5 linked regions of the Homo sapiens genome follow. The protein of the gene in region 1 interacts with the protein of each later gene in a pairwise test. Each region holds a gene or a part of one and is shown on either strand. Other genes may lie near its edges.

Region 1 (3,696 bases):
TTTTAAGAAAAATATAAAAATTTTTAAGAAAGTAGGATTTTTTTTTTTTAACTACATGGAGCAAAGAGTGCCAGACAGCATTCTAATGTACAGAAATCCAAAAAGCATCCTGCTCTCCCAGGCCTTCTCCTGGCTCAGAGTGGGGGCAGCTGGGATCACGTGTGCTGGGAAGGGCCTGGTTGGACTTCTTTCTCCCTGATGGTGGCCACCACGAGGCACCTTGGCAGAGAAGGAACAGGGGAAGCTGAGACCAAACACAGAGATGACACAGCTCCTCTGAAGCTAGGCTGGAGGGGGAGAAACTGCCTTGAGGGGTGTTGGGCCTCATAAAAGCCTGTTTGTCTACTGTGCTGTGAAGTGATCCTCAAAGCTCTCAGAGGAAGGCCTCAACGGGGTGGCACCCTTCATGCAGGGGGCTGGTTGTGAAACAGGTGATGCTTCTCTTTTCAAATAATTTAGACACATTTAGTGGTCACATTCCTACTGAGCTGAAGTATGGGCCCCCTATGGAACTAAGTGGAGTCCCTTGTATTGACGTTGGCCCAGCACCTCACCCACGTTTTCTGGGCCCACTATCTCCACGTTTGCAAATTGGGTTCCTGTGAAAAGTTTCAAGAAAAAAAAAAAGGCAGAAGAGGAAAAACAGGCTCCTCTGCTGCGGCCTTGAGTTTGGGGCCATCGGAAAAAGTCTGGATGAAGAATGATTTTGGCCCTATGAGTTTCACAGCAGCCAGTGGAAACTTCCAGGAATGCTGCCCCGGGCCAGCCAGGGGCTGTTTCCGCTGCCACTTTTACGAGCTGCAGACCCCCTCCCCGGCTGGCTGGCCAGCACAGGGGGAATGTGATGGTCTCTTTCAGCTCAGCTCTGCCTCTTAGGGTGCAGTTTGTGTTCCATGGGCAGCAATTTTTCCAGGCTCTGTCCAGTGACAGAGGGTTCAGAGCCCTCACAGCCCTGATTGGCCCATTTAGAAGGGGCCAGCCACCAGGCGGAGCACCCTCCATGGCAGCTAATGTCTGTGCCGGACGCTGCAAGAATTTATAGCAGCCTTAAAGGGGGAGACTCCCTTCTAAAATGTTTCAATGTTTTATTAAATGTATGAAAGAAAGTTTCCTTTCCACTGGACCAAGGCCCAGGACTTCATGGAGCCCCAGGGAAGGGGGCAAAACCTCTTGGGAAAGCACACGGGTGAGGTTAATCTGACCCTCCTGATGCCTATGGGCTGCACAGTACCGGAGTCAAGGCTGCCATACTCACATGGGCTCATCCATTGGCCAGCAGGGGCCTGGCATACAGTAAGGCACTCAGCCAACCCTAAAGAGGGAAGTGAAATGATGCCAAAGGCGTCATGGCCAGCATGGTCCAACCCGCGCAAGTGATGAGTGGGGCAGGCTTGCTCTGGTCCAGCCCCTCTTTGGGGAGCATGCAGGCTCCCAGACAGTGCTGCCCCTCTGCTGACACTCTATCCAAAGCCAGAGGAGGAGGGCAGCTTTTCCCAGCCTGTCTGGGAGCTATGTCTGCAAGACTGGCCCTGGCCCATGAAGCACATGCAGCTCCAGCAGCTGGGGGCCTTTGGCAGGCCAGGCAGCCAGGTCCGCAGGTGAGCCATTGTGCTGGGTGTGTAAGAGAGGCCAGGAGAGCAAGGGCCCAGCTTCAGGAAGGCAGCATGATCTGCCTGACAAGCACTCTGACAAGCATGGTCAGAGTGAGCAACTGCTGGGCTGCTGAGTTACCTAGGCCATGAGCTTGGTTGTCTTTCGCACTGGGCGAAGGAGGAGAAAGTGGGCTCAGAGAGATGAAGTTGTCATGGCCTGTGATTGCCCTGGGCTGAAGTCCCACATGACATATCCTATAGTAGTATTCGTTGGACTTGGACAGGCAGAGACCCTCCTGGGATCAGGGGACTCACCTCCCTGCCTTTGTCCCCTGCCAGCCTGGGAGGCTCTTCCAGGTGTGAGGGGAAGGACCCAAGTGGAGTGCCATCATTTGTGGGTGCAATTTTCTCACCTCTGGAGTGGAGGTGGTTGATGGTCTCCAGTTGTTTATGGACAGTGCCTGGCTCAGACAAGGAAACTGGTTTTGCTGCAGAACTCCAATATAAATGCCAGGCCACCAGGGTGGGGGGTTCCTGACCCCTTGGTTCTCTTGAGAAATGACCAAAGGCTATGGGACCTGCCATCTAGTTTCCCTCACTGTGTCCCCACCCCCTGCCCACAAACATTATAGATCAGCCATCCAGAGCCAGGAGAAGCAGACATAAAGGCAAGGGCTATCCCAATAGCACCAGAGACAAGGGGCCTGGCAGAACCCCTGGGTGGAAAGAGCCAGCTGGCATTTGGGCAGTGGCTGAGGCAGCCAAGTGGGGACTGGCCAAGGGGGTCCCTAGAGCAGCCTGGCGGCCCTTCTGTGTTCTGACCCAACCACTGTTTATTTTGCAGACAGTCTCCATTCTGGAGCAGCGGTTGACACTGACAGAAGACAAGCTGAAGCAGTGTCTGGAGAACCAGCAGCTAATCATGCAGAGAGCAACACCATGATCAGGGGAGCAGGAATCAGGAGCTCGGTGGATTTGCAGGTGGCAGGCCAGGGATTTGTACCATGGGACTTGGGTAAATAAAGGGGACTGAACTCTGTGGGAATCACATCCATACTGGAGCCCTGGATTTTTGCAGTTCTGCCCTCCACCTTGCTATCTGCACCAGGAGGCTCTCCACCTGGCAGCCAGAGGTCCCCAGTGGGCCGGGCTCACACACAAATGATGCTTCAGACCCGAATGAGAGGACCACATTTTGCTTAATGTAAAGGAGCCACTTGAAAATGTCTGCTCCTTCGGGGTCCTGAGATTGTGGCTCCCCCTCTGGAGGAGGTGGCTCCACGATGCCTTGATTTTCACTCATCATTTGGACATGTGACTGGCTTTTCCTACCTCTGCCATGGTGTAGAAATTGATTGCACATTGATTGGATGAGCCGGGGGTTTTCTCTAAATCTGACTAAAGGCCCAAAGTGGGCCCATCTGAGTCAGGTTTGTTGAGAACAAGCCCTCTCAAGTGGGTGGTGGCTTTTCAGTGGCCCTGATTTCTGTTCCACACGTGTTCACTGGAGCCAGGTGACTTCCTCCTTGCGTGAGTGAGGGCACAGGAATCTCAAAATTAAACCTGACTTCATTGCACTTGTTGCAGGAGTGGCTTATGCTGGATGACACTTAATCAATCTTCCCATCCCCAGGGCCCAAACAGAATGAGAATGGTGACTTGGGACGGCCTCTGCCAGGATTGCCTCTGAGGCCAGGACCCCCCTGTTTGCAGCTGTTCAGGGTGTCGGGGAACAAGGGCAGTCAGAGCCCTTGCATGCACCCACCTCCCTCTGGCTGGCCCCCACTGACTGCTTCTGTTGGGACTCAGAGGCCTCAGGCACCCAAGTTTCCATTTGCTCCTGAGGGCTTCCATAGGGTCCTCCCTCTGCCCCTGTGCTGGGGAAGCCAGGACAAATGTTTTCCCTGTGTCTGTGTGTCGCCCGTGCCTTCCGTCTTCAGCTTCTTGGGGCTCAGCCAGCCAAGGAGGTCTTTATCCTCAAACACACCTGCCCTGCCCTGGGGAATGGGAGGTGGTGTTAGATCGTCCCAGGAGCTGTCAGTACCACGTGGTCAGTGGGTTCACAGCCTCTGCAGCCTCCAGGTGGAAGCAGAGCCTGCATGCC
Region 2 (4,230 bases), on another chromosome or scaffold:
AGGAAATGGTTGCAAGGCCCTTCGTAGGCAGATATTGCTACCTACACAGCTTCTTTAGGGCCAAAGTTGGTTCTCTGGCTCTCCAAACCCAGGACCTAGCAAGGGTTAAAGGTATATTGCAGAGGGGAAGGCAGTGAACGGAAAAATGGCACAGTAAGCCCAAACATTCCCAGAATGGACTGTATAGGAGATTAACAATTGGGCCATATGGTTATAGGTGCGTACTCTTGAGGACGCCCAAAAAACTAAATTGTTGAATCTTCACATGCTATGTAGATACAAGTTGATGATAATGGTAAAGGTATTCCTGAAGTATCTGTAGGCCTATACACATGCTGATAATTAAGAGGGACTCTTTTTTCCTTTTCTTTTTTTTGAGACGGAGTCTCGCTCTGTTGCCCAGGCTGAAGTGCAGTGGCACGGTCTCGGCTCACTGCAACCTCTGCCTCTCGGGTTCAAGCAATTCTCCTGCCTCAGCCTCCAGAGTACCTGGGATTACAGGCGCCTGCCACCACACCTGGCTAATTTTTTGTATTTTTAGTAGAGACGGGGTTTCACCATGTTGGCCAGGCTGGTCTCAAACTACTGACCTCATGATCCGCCCGTCTGGGCCTCCCAAAGCACTGGTGTGAGCCACTGCACCCAGACTAAGAGGGATTTCTTTCGGGTAAGTAGATTTTCACTAGGCTAGCACTCAGCTTTTTTTCATCCCATGGGTCAGTACAAATGTGTCCCAACTAGGTAACAATATTGTTAAAAATCTTGTCTAATTCTCAGGAAGTAGTGTGGAACATGTTTAAGGCCTTCCATGTTGAAATGTGGTCCCACACCAAAGCCTTTGAAAATTAATAACAAAAATATGGCCGGGTGCGGTGGCTCACGCCTGTAATCCCAGCACTTTGGGAGGCCGAGGCGGGCGGACCACCTGTCAGGAGTTGGAGACCAGCCTGGCCAACATGGTGAAACCCTGTCTCTACTAAAAATACAAAAATTAGCTGGGCGTGGTGGCGGGCGCCTGTAATCTCAGCTACTGGGGAGACTGAGGCAGGAGAATCGCTTGAACGGGGAGGCGGAGGTTGCAGTGAGCCATGATGGCGCCATTGCACTCCAGCCTGGGTGACAAGAGCCAAACTCCATCTCAAAAAAAAAAAAAAAAAAGTACGTGTGTATTTTTCACGCACTCTACTCAGCCAAGCAACCAAATCTCTATTGTCTATGATTTACGAGTCATGTCAATCAAGTCAAAAAATTAGTGACAACTATACGACTGAGTCCTTCCTCCCCCACTGAACATCAGCCTATTTCAAAAGTTTCCGAGATGTTTTCTACAATGAAAAGCATTGTACTTAACAATTTGTTCCAGGCACAGTGGCTCACGCCTGTAATCACAGCACTTCGAGAGGCCGAGGTGGGAGAATCACCTGAGTCCAGGAGTTCGAGACCAGCCTGGGCAACACAGCGAGACCCCGTCTCTCCCAAAAACATTACCTGGCCCTGGCGATATGCACCTGTAGTCCCAGCTACTCTGGAGGCAGAGGCGGGAGGATCGCTTGTGCCTAGGAGATCAAGGCTGCAGTGAGCCATGATCTCTCCATTGCACACCTGCCTGGGTGACAGAATGAGACCCCATCTTTAAAATAAAAATTAAAAAAAATTTATGCTACAGATTTACATTTGGTAAATGTATTCTTTTGTCTTTGCTTTATTTGTTGTGTGTGTGTGAATTTTAAATGTCTGGGATAAATGATCATTTATAAGTATTTAATAAAACAAAAACCCTTTGCTCCTCCTATTAAATAACAGCCTTACCAGCAACTCTTTCCAAACACGAAACTATTATGAAACATGATACCATGTGCCAAAGCTGTCCTGGGGAAGGCTTCACTCACACACAAATGGCTGGATAATAGTATGAGAGAAACGAGGAGTTTCTTTACATATCACAAACAGTATCTTCAAGTGCATGGTCACGGAAGAGTTAAAGGGACAGCAGGCTAGGCAGACTACAACAAAATCATCCCAGTCCACTCCTAATACCTAAAAACAAAGCTGGCCGCCTGCTCCGGAAAGATGGGAGTACCAAAAGAAACCAAACCCAAACATCCCGTAATAAAAACTCTTGTGACGACTTCCCTGTTTAGGGGCACGCCGGGTTTCCTACTTCACTTCCTAAATGTCAGGCCCTACAGTGGGCGAGCCAAGGTCTCCTCCCTCGGGAGGCTCGCGGACCTAGTGCAGGGGAAAGACACGAACAAGACCCCAAAGATCTACGTGTAGGGAAGACTCCAATATAGAATTGAGCAGTCCGGAGGAGGAAAAGTTAATTCTGCCAGGATTAGGGTAGGAGGGGTTGAGGGAGGTGTCCCAGAGATGACTCTAGCTAGACCCTAGGGAGAGGGAAGGATTGGGGAGGGGTGAAGGAATCCTCCGAAAAGCGATGGAAAGTGACGGAGAAAGGCAGAAGCAAACCCACTGGGCGCCACCCCACTCCCGTGTCCCGAGACGCCCCCGGCCCCGCCCATACTCCCTCCCGGCTCCCAGGGCGGGGGCCGCGGGGGAAGTAGGGGCGTAGGTGATGCTCCCCTCCTCGAGCCGAGGAGGCGGGAGGCTGCGGCGTCGCCCCTCGCCGGGCGAGATCGGCATGGGGGCGACTCGGGCCCCACCCAGCCCTCCGAGAGGCGGTGATGCCGCGCTCCACGCCCGCCACCGCGCGGCAGACAGCTCCCCACCGAACGCGGACACTCACTTTCTCGTGGAAGATGGACTCCATGTTTATTTGTCTGGAGCCAACGGCCCCCACGCCGAACCACCCCCTCCAGCTCCGCCCCCTGCCCCTCTCCTCCGCCCACCCCGCCCCTCCCCGGCCCGCCCCGGTACCCCGCCCACGTGCCGCACGCAGACCAATCACCCGTGAGGATGCGAGTGTCGTGAAGCGAAGAGCGAGTGAACGCCGGGGACACGTGACCTTGGTAGCGCGTCCTCCTAGCTTCTGTTAGCGGGCCTTCTGGGGGATGCTACATCGCCACCTGCTGTCTGGAGGATCTTCTCCGCTTCCCACCCATTTCTATGGATTCTTAGGTTTCTGGGGGGAGGTCTGGACCGCTCACCTGGGTTCTATGTTCTTTTTGTTTTCCACTTTGACTTTCTACTGTGTTCATATAACTATTTACTTTCTTTCTCCTCCTCCTGCACTGAAAGTTTAGTAAGAAAAAAGCCATCATTACATTCTCCCAAAACCCAGCACTTGTATAAAAATGATAGCTAGGCCGGGCGAGGTGCTTCACGCTTGTAATCCCAGCACTTTGGGAGGCCGAGGCGGGCGGATCACCTGAGGTCGGGAGTTTGAGATCAGCCTGACCAACATGGAGAAACCCCGTCTCCACTAAAAATACAAAATTACCCGGGCGTGGTGGTGCATGCCTGTAATCCCAGGTACTCGGGAGGCTGAGGCAGGAGAATCGCTTGAACCCGGGAGGCCGAGGTTGTGGTGAGCCGAGATCGTGCCATTGCACGCCAGCCTGGGCAACAAAAGCGAAACCCCTCCCCCACCACCCCAAAAAAGAAAAAAAATGATAGTTAATATTTACATAAGGCTTTCTATGAGCTAGGCACTTTTCTAAATGCTTTGCATATATTATCAAATTTAATACAGCAAACTTTGATGTAGGTGTTGATGTTATTCATACACATGAGGAAACCGAGGCACGGAGAGGTTAAGAACAGCACAATGTCCAAGGTCAGATAGTAAGTTGTCTTGCCAGGATTCAAATCCAGGTGGCTTGTTACCAGTGTAGGTGTTCGGACCCTTTAGAGGGAACTTAGAAGTCCCATAAATTGTGTGGGAGACGGGGAGGTAGCAGCGGTTTGATGAAACTTAAATGGAAGGATAGGTGCAGATCTTGCACCTTGAAACCAGATTAAGGTGTACTTTTTTTTTTTTTTTTTTTGAGACGGCCCTCTCTCTGTCCCCCAGGCTGGAGTGCAGTGGCACAATCTCCCCGCTCACTGCAACTTCTGCTTCCTGGGTTCAAGTGATTCTCTTGCCTCAGCCTCCCAAACAGCTGGGATTACAGGCGTGCACCACGAAGTCCAACTATTTTTGTATTCTTAGTAGAGAAGAGGTTGTACCATGTTGGCCAGGCTGGTCTCGAACCCCCAGCCTCAGGTGATCCACCTGCCTTGGCCTCCCAAAGTCCTGGAATTACAGGCGTGAGCCACCGCACCTGGCCA
Region 3 (2,720 bases), on another chromosome or scaffold:
CCCCTTCAACAGAGAAAAGTTTTAGGCTTACACCAGGGTTTCTTAACAGTGGCTGACATTTTGTGCTGGATAATTCTTTGTTGTGAGGAACTGTCCCGTGCAGGGATGTTTAGCAGCACCCCTGGCCTTGATGTGGTGACAAGACCACCTCCCCAGGTACTCCAGAAATTGCAAAATGTCACATGGAGGAGGGGGCTACATTCTTCCCCAGCAGAGAACCACTGGCCTGTACTCACTTGCTGACCCCGAGAACATCGTTTGAAACTTTGCTCTGTCCCGTCCTTCAGCTTGGCCCACACAGTCTCCCGTGGACATGGGAATTTTATTGGTTTCATCACATGCCACATGGATGGATACTGTTCAAATAAAGTTACCATGTGAATGTAGTTTCTCCCATGTTCATCCAGTAGAATGATAGAAACTTCTGGAGAAGTCACTTCAGCATGAAGTTTTTTAAAAATTTTTTTATTTTTTTGAGATGGAGTCTCCTCTGTCACCTAGGCTGAAGTGCAGTGGCGCAACCTCGGCTCACTGCAACCTCTGCCTCCTGAGTTCAAGTGATTCTCATGTCTCAGCCTCTCGAGTAGCTGGGACTACAGGCGCGCGCCACCACGCCCAGCTAATTTTTGTGTTTTTGTGGAGACAGGGTTTCACTACGTTGCCCAGGCTGGTCTCAAACTCCTGAGCTCAAGTGATCTACCTGCCTCGGCCTCCCGAAGTGCTGAGATTACAGGCATGAGCCACCGCGCCCGGCCTCTTTCTCCACGTTTTGACTGAGGCCATCTCCATGCATCTTTTCTCTTGACTGGAAATGTGGTGGAATCAAATAAAACAAATTTGACAATGGTTTAACAAAATTGTTTAATAAAATTTATAAAAATGCATCTTTGAGAATACTTTTCTCAGCTTGAATTGTTTTCCTTTTCCACCCCCAAAGAAAATACACAATTATCAGCACCCACACATGTATACACTCAAAACTACAGTGACATTCTCTACACAGAACTATATTCGATATAGCTTGAACTGCCGAAAAATCAAGACAATTCCAAAAAGTGATTGCAGGGTTGATTTTTTTCTCCAAAACACTTGAGAAACAGTAAAGCTATTTCAACAAAAGTCTTTTCTTTGATTGTCAAAAGTTGAAATTCACATTTAAATAAAAAGAGATCCAAATCAAGATCCTCACTACCCCCTACCCCTCAACTAACCCCCTTTAGGGCCACATTTTCTTCTTGCTCCTAAGAAAAAAATTTGGAATTTTGAATATTCTCGGTTTTCTGTGCACACCTGGAATTGGGCAAATGTGTTCAGCTCAGCCAGCATTTTCTGTAGACATCATCAAAAGCAGGCACTTGGGGATTCTGGGCTTTGAGTACAAACCACGGATCTTGTGTCAGAAACACATGTTGAGACTCCTCCATTCCTTCCAGAATTTTCAGAGATGAGGTAGACCCACCTCAATCATCCTCAGCATCAGTTTGCTAAATTGCCAGGCTCAATGACAAGCTCTCCTGCCATCTCCAAGCCCACTTTTCATAGTTCCGCTCTGTCTTTGGCTGCAGCACTTTAGGCACTATTCTAAGTCCTGGAGTATATCACTCTTGCTTCAGAGCTAAATAAACATTAATGAACACACTTACTCAGAACAAGTCACTGGATAGCTGCCCATTGCAAGTTACATACTCAGGAGATGAAAGAGGGAAGCCATTAAAGGTCTTCAGAGTAGACAATACCTAGTCAAGATGTGGCCAGACAAAGACACAAACTTCTTACCCTAAAAGAGCCCAATAATTTCTGCATCAGAGAACTCCTATCTTGGGCAAAGCAACTGAATTCAGGAGTGAGAGTTGATATTAAAACATGGAGGCTGGGCACAGCAGCTCATGCCCACAATCCCAGCACTTTGGGGGGCCAAGGCAGAAGGATTGCTTGAGGCCAGGAGTTTAAGACCAGCTTGGGCAACATAGCAAGACCCCATCTGTACAAAAAAATAAAAAGGAGGCTGGTGGGAGAACTGCTTGAGCCCCAGAGTTTGAGGTTACAGTGAGCTATGATCACATCACTGCATCCCAGGCCTGGGCGATGGAGCGAAACTGTCTCTTAAAAAATGGCAGGGAGTTGGGGAGCTGGGCAGGTGCAGTGGCTCATGTCTGTAATCCCAATACTCTGGGAGGCCAAGATGGGAGGATCACTTGAGCCCAGGAGTTTGAGACCAGCCTGGGTAACACAGGGAGACCCCGTCTCAAATATTTAAAAAATTAGTCATGCGTAGTGGTGCATGCCTGTGGTCCCAGCTACTTGGGAGGCTGAGGTGCAAGGATAGCTTGAGCCTGGGAGGACAAGGCTGCAGTGAGCTGTGATTGCACCACTGCACTCCAGCCTGGCCGATAGAATGAGACCCTGTCTTAAAAAAAAAAAAAAGGCAGAGGGACACACCAGTGTAGTAATGAGCAGAAGCACACAAATTTTTTTTAAAAAATTATATACACAAAACAACAGAACTAGAGTAGCTGACTTCTCCCCTTCTTTTTAAAAGTGAGACAAAATTCCTTAAGAAAATCTGCAAGGTGCTGGGTGAACCTTCTGATGCTAAAGTTGTTCTTCTGGAATATTAAAATTTGGGTATCTTTTGGACATCACCACCATGTAAAGAGTGATGGGAAAAAAAAAAAAGCTTTAAGAAATAAGTCGAAACTTTTCTAACACAAACTTATTAG
Region 4 (3,320 bases), on another chromosome or scaffold:
GCAAGACTCTTTATCTCAAAACAAACAAAGACATGGATAAAAGCTATGGATTCTCTCCCATAGAAAACTGCACACCCTCATAACCTTTTGCACCTACTCTTTTTTTTTTTTGAGACAGAGTTTCGCTCTTGTTGCCCAGGCTGGAGTGCAATGGCTCGATCTTGGCTCACCACAACCTCTGCCTCCCAGGTTCAAGCAATTCTCCTGCCTCAGCCTCCCGAGTAGCTGAGATTACAGGCATGCACCACTACGCCCGGCTGATTTTGTATTTTTAGTAGAGATGGGGTTTCCCCATATTGAGGCTGGTCTCGAACTCCTGACCTCAGCTGATCCACCCACCTCAGCCTCTCAAAGTGCTGGGGTTACAGGCGTGAGCCACCGCGCCCGGCTGCACCTACTCTTAGAGAATTCTCAGGCCCCACGCCTTACCCCAACTTCTGTTACCAGTGGTGAATCCAATGGGTCTGCAGCAAACTTGATGCTTGCCTTCTCAAAGACAGAACTCAGCTGAGGGGCAGAGGTGGTTTTAAGTGGTTTTAAGGCACAGGGAGAGACCAAGGCAAGTTTTAGAGCAGGAGTGAGAGTTTATTAAAAAGTTTTAGAGCAGGAACAAAAGGAAGTACACTACACTTGGGTCAGGCAGGCAACTTGAGAGATCTAAGTGCCCTGCCTGACCCTTAACTTGGGGTTTTATGTATTTGGCATAGTTCTGGGATTTACGTCTCATCTCCCCTGATTCTTCCCTTGCAGCAGGCTGTCCGCGTATGTGGTGACCTGCCAGCACTTGGAAGGGGTCGCATGCACAGTGTGATTACTGAAGTTGCGCGCATGCTCACTTGAGGCATTTTTCCCCTTACCAGTCGTGCGTTCCCAGAGGAAGGTAGGTCATATACTGGTTAAATTCCGCCATTTTGCCTCTTGGTGCGCATGCTCCAGGCTGCTTGCCCAGCTCCTGAGATCTTATCGGGAAGCGGCTGATCACCAGATCAGGGTGTTTTGTATCTATTGAGAGACTGTCCTTGCTTGGAGCTGGCTGCAACCAATTATTATTTTACAGAGACAGTTTAACAACCACCTGACCATCACCTGATGGTAGCCTGACATTCCTGTGGGGGCCCTCACCTGTCCTGCTCATGTTTGCCTAGCTCCCTACTCTAACATTTCCACTCTGTGGACCCCAGGTTGAGATCTTCTGCAGGGAAGACTGTCCTCAAATAGCCTGCTGGGGAGACATCTCCTTCCCGTTTACCTTTCCATTTGCCCTTGCGGTGTTAGGCAAAGGCTGAAGCTGGCCTCTGTGGCAGAGGGTTTCTTCCCAACACGCCAATGACGCTGGTGGAGAGTCTTAAAAACAGCTGTGCTGGGGAGAGTTCTTGGTGTGTACCTTTCAGAGACCTCCTCCTTAAGACTCTCAAAGACTGAGTCAGGCCAGTGGGAGCCTGGCAGCAATTCTTAGGGGACAGTGACAGCTTTTTGAGGAGGACTAATTGGCTTCTAGGGCTGGAGGCCACTTGGGTCTGACAGACTGCCCTGCTGCCATCCCTCCAGGGCACCCCCCACTCCCTTGCCTCAGGGCCTTCCTGCACTTCTTCCTTTTGTCCTCAATGTTCTTCACCCCACCTTTTCCACTGGTACCCTCTGCCTATGGTCAAGGCTTTGGTGAGACCCACTTTCCTCTTAGACCTTCCTGGATCCCCCAAAGTCTGTGTTGGAAGCCCCTCCCATGTGCCCTTGTTTGAGCTTTTAATTTTCCACCATGACGCTTGTCACACTGCTTTGTAATTGGCTCTCTGTTAGTCTGCATCTCTACTGGGTTGTACCTTCCAGGAGGACAGCTGCCATGTGACTCTTGTAATCTTCCCACCGCCAACACCCAGCACAGCGTCAGGAACACAGAGCATGATGAGCACAAGCTTGTTGAGCAAACAGACAAATAACTGGATGCTTCTGTGCAGAGTTTCTCAACCTGGCCATTATTGGCATTTGGGACTTGATCATGCTTGGTCGTGGGAGACGGTTCTGTGCCTGTAGGATGTTTAGGAGCATGCTTGGTTTCTACCCACCAGATGCCGGGAGCACACCCACCCAGCTGTGACAACCAAAAATGTCTCCAGACACCATTCCAAAACCAGCGGGAGACAAAATCGCCCGACAGTCGTTGCTTTAGTGAGTGAATGTTGACCTAAGCGTCACTTCGCCTGTCTTGAGTCTAGGTCGGGGAGTGGGTTCAGTTAGCCAATCAGAGAACGCTGATGGGGCGACCAGTATATGCTCATGAAATGGGTGGCTGACCTCTTGGGGTCAGAAGAGGGAAAAGTTTTACTGTGTGTTGGCTAAGGACCATTTTAAGTCCTTCAGTGACCGATTACCACATGAGAACACAAGAGGGCGCTCTAACTAATGAGTTCCGCGGCCGAGAAAACTCCTGGAGTGGGTGCTCCTGGGATGCTTCAGGTTTAGACACCGGGGTTACGGCAGCTGCCGAGGAAGGCTAAAGCCAGCGTCCTGGATTCAGACAGACCTTTTAGCCATTAAATCCACTAAGAAAGATCCCTGCGCATGAAGTTTCCTCCTCGGAAATATAGGCAGAAGGGAAAGTAATTTTAAACTCATGTGTGCTCCACAGGCCGGGGGCGGTGGCTCATGCCTGCAATCCCAGCACTTTGCGAGGCCAAGGAGGGAGGATCACTTGAGCCCAGAAGTTCGAGACCAGCCTGGGCACCATGGTGAAACCTCATCTCTGCAAAAAAAAAATTAAAAATTAGCCAGCTATGGCGGCTCACGCCTCTGGTCCCAGCTACCCAGGAAGCTGAGATGGGAGGATCGCTTGAGCCCAGGGGTTCGAGGCTGCGGTGAGCCATTGTTGTGCCACTGCACTCCAGCCTGGGCAACAGAGCAAGCCCCTGTCTCAACAAAACAAAACAAAACAAAAAATTCAGTCGTGCTGCATAAGTAAGGCACCAGGAGTAGGAATAGGGTCTTTGCAGCTCCCGTGGCAATTGCCCTTCTCTGGTGGTGGCAAGGGACTAAGGAACTCCCTGGACACAGGGGATCTGGCTGTCCCCAGATCATCAACAGAGACATGAAGGTCGTTAGAGGTCGTCTGATCCTTTGACCTCAATCTGAGCCCACCACTCAGAAAACCTGGAAATTGTATGACATTTTCGTGATACAACTCGGTGTGTGTGTGTTGGGGAAAGGAACCAACAGCTTTCATCATATTGTCAAAAGAGTCTAGGCTGGGCATGGTGGCTCACGCCTGCAATCCCAACCCAAAGGCCTGTGGAGCACACATGAGGACAAGGCGGGCAGATCACCAA
Region 5 (3,847 bases), on another chromosome or scaffold:
CATAGTCATTGGCTGCTGGACATAAAGGTGACTGGCTTACCTATCTTGGGATGCTTGTGAGGAGGTGGGCATAAGAGAGGGCTAGCTCTCATTTGGTGTGTCCTGAGCCCATGGTTCAGAAAGAGTTGTTAATCTGAAAGAAAAAAGACATAAGAAAGAATTCAGAAGAGGCAGCTGTAGTTACTAGTCATCAGTTGGGGAAATGCAGTTAACTATGATAAGGACAGCTGGTGGGCAGAAAGGGTCTCTCACCTTGTTGAGAGTGACCAGGGTGGAAGACTTCAGAAAGGCATGGGAAGTCAATAAACTGAAAGATGGGGACATGATTTTCTCAGCTCTAGGACAAACTGGAGACCCCGAGCCTAAAGTAGCCAAGTCTTTGCTACTAGGATTCAGGTGATAAGATTTCCAACCCAATCTTTTCAAACCCAGACCAAACATCCTCCTTGCTTCTCAAATTGGGTTATGTATAGTCACAGGATAAGCCATCCCATGTCTTTCTCAAGCTTCAGTTGTATTTGAAGACTTGGCGAGTAGAGACATTTTATTATGAAAACATACAGGAATAATGAAAAGTTCTGGCTTTTTAAGGTAGATGAGATTATATAATCACTTTGGGCTGTGCCATCAAATTTTTTCTCTTTCCTCCCCAGCCAAACACATACCCACTCGATCTCACATACCCATTTGCTCTCTGCCACTAAGGCTACTTTGGAAAAGTTTGAGAAGCAGGACTCTATGATAAAGATTATATCCGTTGCCGTTGATCCTGCTCTGTCTCAGGGTTGGGGGTGAGCAGACCTTTTCCATTCCCAGCATGTATCCTTTGTGAGATAAGAGTTGTTGGTTAAGAGTTATTTTGTTTCTTGCAGGGGTCTCCTTATGCCAGGGACCAGGTTACCCTAACAGCAGGAAGGTTGTGTAAGTATCACTGGGGAGTACAGATATGTGGCCACGGGTTATTTATTTAAAGACATAAAGTTCTAAATTTGACCATCTGATTTCTTCACTGGCCTCCAGACCTAGAAATTGAGGTGATTATGTTGAGTCCCTAGACTAACCTCAATGTTCACTTTTCCCATGTGATGTTCCTTGAGCATCAGCTCCGTGTCAGGTTTTGGACTGGGAGTGTGCCCACTCTCCACAGGTGTTTGGATTATAATGAAAGTTAAGTTGGAATCCTCTTTTTATGGGATATAGAAGGGTGCTCCTAGATATTCTGTTTGGATGTAAGTGCAGCTGAAAGGCTCGAGGTTACATTTATTGTGGAGATTGAGAGCATCCTCTCAGTAGCATAGTTACTCATTTTTAAAAACAGTAAAAGCATAAAACTGGTTGAGTCCTGGGACTGACTGACTAGTTTGGAGGGAATGCTGTTATTGCATAATGCAGAGTTTGGAGAAAGGCTACCCATGTGTGTTTCAGATTAACTTCTGCGTATGAATGTTGCTTAAATGCTGCTTTGCATTCCAAGTGTTTTTGTGGTGGTGCTAAGAGAATGCTCTCTAGTAACCTGTTCAGCAGCTGTCAGGCTGCTTACTCTACAGGGAGAATCCTCAAAGTGAAGAGGTCAGCGGATGAGCTTCTTACTTACTCTACATCACAATGAGGGTTTTTGTTGTTGTTGTTTTGAGACAGGATCTTGCTCTGCCACTTTGGCTGGAGTGCGGTAGCCTGATCTTGGCTCACTGCATCCTCAGCCTCCTGGGCTCAAGAGATCCTTTCACCTCAGCCTCCTGAGTAGCTGAGACTACAGGCACATGCCACCATGCCCGGTTGTTTTTTGTATTTTTTGTAGAGATGGGGTTGTTTTGCCATGATACCTGGGCTGGTGTCAAACTCCTGGGCTCAAGCAATCCATCCACTTGCCTTAGCCTCCCAAAGTGGAGGATACAGGCGTGAGCTATGGTGCCTGGCTGATTTTTTAAAATTTGAGTAAATGTTGCACTCAGTACTAGAAATATGAATCCCGGTGTTATTTTGGAGGGCAGTTTGATAGTCATAAGTCTTTGAAGTGTGTGTACCTTTTCTTTTTTTCTTTTTTTCAAGATGGAGTCTTGCTCTGTCACCCAGGCTGGAGTGCAGTGGCGCGATCTCGGCTCACTGCAGCCTCTGCCTCTCGGGTTCCAGCAATTCTCCTGCCTCAGCCTCCTGGGTAGCTGGGATTACAGGCGCACGCTACCACACCTGGCTGATTTTTGTATTAGTAGAGACGGGGTTTCATCTTGTTGGCCAGGCTGGTCTCTGAAACTCCTGACATCAGGTGATCCGCCCGACTCAGCCTCCCAAAGTGCTGGGATTACAAGCATGAGCCACTGCCCGGCCTGTGTGTTCCTTTTCATCTAGCAATTCCATCTCTAGGAATCTATACTGAAGAACTCCTGGTATATTTATCTCAGATTTAATATCTGATAATATAAATATTATCAGATTTATCTTAAAATGGCAAAGAGCAAGGGATTGGCTAAACTATAGCATGTTCACATGTTCACACTATGAAAAGTGGGAAAAAGCAGGTTACAAAATAATTTCATTTTCTACTGTGTGGTATGATCCCATTGTAAGTATTCTTTTTGCTATTTCTAATATTCTGTAGTGAACATCTAGTTATTTAGAGATTCAAAATGTATTACTCATCTGCAATCAAATGAAAATTGGGGCAATCATGACTCTCTACAATAAATACACTAAATATTTGAAAGTAAATAATGAAGAAAAAGTAAACTTTGTGTGGGATCACCCCAATCATGTCACCCTAATCCAGTATCTTTGTGTGTGTTGTGCCTTTTTTGTGAATAAGGTACCCACTTTATTTAATAAATCTTTTATTGTAAAACAATTTTTGGTTTTATGTTTTTACTAATAGTATTATATTTACATGATTAAAAATTCAAAAAGTAAAAAGGGTGTCCATGAGAAGACTTTTTTATCCTTGTCCTCTAGCCCCCCGAATGCCTCTTGGGTAGTGGTGGCCACCACTCCGGGTTCCTGGATGACTTGCAGAGCAGCCTCTGCACTTGCATGTTACCTGTTAGTTCTTGCCTATAGGCATGTACTTTACAAGGTTACAAACTATATGTAGAACAATTTGTATTCTTGTAGTTTTTAAATATCTTCATTTTTTCTTGGTTATACATAGACCTTATAGTTATTTTGACATTATAAAAGTAAAAATACCTAAAGACAACTTAAATCTCTTTTACTTTTCTATTATAAAAATGCTTGTTGTGGAATATTCAGACAATCCTGAAGTGTAAAAAGTGAAAGTCCCCATCCAAATCATTCTCCCAAATTGTGTAAGTGTGCAACACATAACCAGAGATACCATATATGTCTACATCTCTCACCCCTCAGAGGTAACCACTGTTAATGGCTTTGTGCATACAGGGTGAGCTGATTCTCCAGTTTATATTATTTACTGTAAAGGCCATATCAGTAAACGCCTTGGTCTTTGAGGTTCGTTTTGAATGAATCCAGAATGTGTTGATGTGCTGTTTTCTAGCAAGAGAACCGAGTAGGAGATACCATATGGGGTTTGTGTGTGGTTTTTTTGTTTTTGGGTTTTTTTTTTTTTTTTTTGGCATAACACCTTGTTTTACTTCCGAGTTAACCTTGTTAATCTTGCTGCCTTATCTGATCTAAATCTGTTATCTTGAGGGCAGAAATTCCATTATACCTTGCACAATGGCTTGTACCCTGGGCAGGCCGTAAATCTATCTCGGATTTAGTTAAGGAAGAGACCTGGCTGGACATGGTGACTCACTCCTGTAATCCCAGCACTTTGGGTAGGATCTTTGAGACCCGTCTGGGCAATGAAATCCATAGTCTACAAAAAGTAATTTAAAAA

What was found.
Region 2: the proteins of POC1A (region 1) and ATXN3 interact in binary tests that used the Homo sapiens proteins (3 or more experiments, as listed by UniProt).
Region 3: the proteins of POC1A (region 1) and CDH1 interact in a two-hybrid assay, tested with the Homo sapiens proteins (one large-scale study listed by IntAct).
Region 4: the proteins of POC1A (region 1) and PECAM1 interact in binary tests that used the Homo sapiens proteins (3 or more experiments, as listed by UniProt).
Region 5: the proteins of POC1A (region 1) and DLST interact in binary tests that used the Homo sapiens proteins (3 or more experiments, as listed by UniProt).

What each region holds. Positions count from the first base shown.
Region 1 is NC_000003.12:52,074,726-52,078,421, reverse strand, and holds the end of POC1A (POC1 centriolar protein homolog A), read left to right. Parts: intron 1-2,436; coding exon 2,437-2,535; 3' UTR 2,536-3,196; downstream 3,197-3,696.
Region 2 is NC_000014.9:92,103,783-92,108,012, forward strand, and holds the start of ATXN3 (ataxin-3 reference isoform), read right to left. Parts: upstream 2,801-4,230; 5' UTR 2,771-2,800; coding exon 2,747-2,770; intron 1-2,746. UniProt on the Homo sapiens protein: Deubiquitinating enzyme involved in protein homeostasis maintenance, transcription, cytoskeleton regulation, myogenesis and degradation of misfolded chaperone substrates.
Region 3 is NC_000016.10:68,833,665-68,836,384, reverse strand, and holds the end of CDH1 (cadherin-1 isoform 1 preproprotein), read right to left. Parts: 3' UTR 848-2,720; downstream 1-847.
Region 4 is NC_000017.11:64,318,851-64,322,170, forward strand, and holds the end of PECAM1 (platelet endothelial cell adhesion molecule precursor), read right to left. Parts: 3' UTR 565-3,320; downstream 1-564. UniProt on the Homo sapiens protein: Cell adhesion molecule which is required for leukocyte transendothelial migration (TEM) under most inflammatory conditions.
Region 5 is NC_000014.9:74,884,714-74,888,560, forward strand, and holds part of DLST (dihydrolipoyllysine-residue succinyltransferase component of 2-oxoglutarate dehydrogenase complex, mitochondrial isoform 1 precursor), read left to right. Parts: intron 1-872; coding exon 873-921; intron 922-3,847. UniProt on the Homo sapiens protein: Dihydrolipoamide succinyltransferase (E2) component of the 2-oxoglutarate dehydrogenase complex. The 2-oxoglutarate dehydrogenase complex catalyzes the overall conversion of 2-oxoglutarate to succinyl-CoA and CO(2).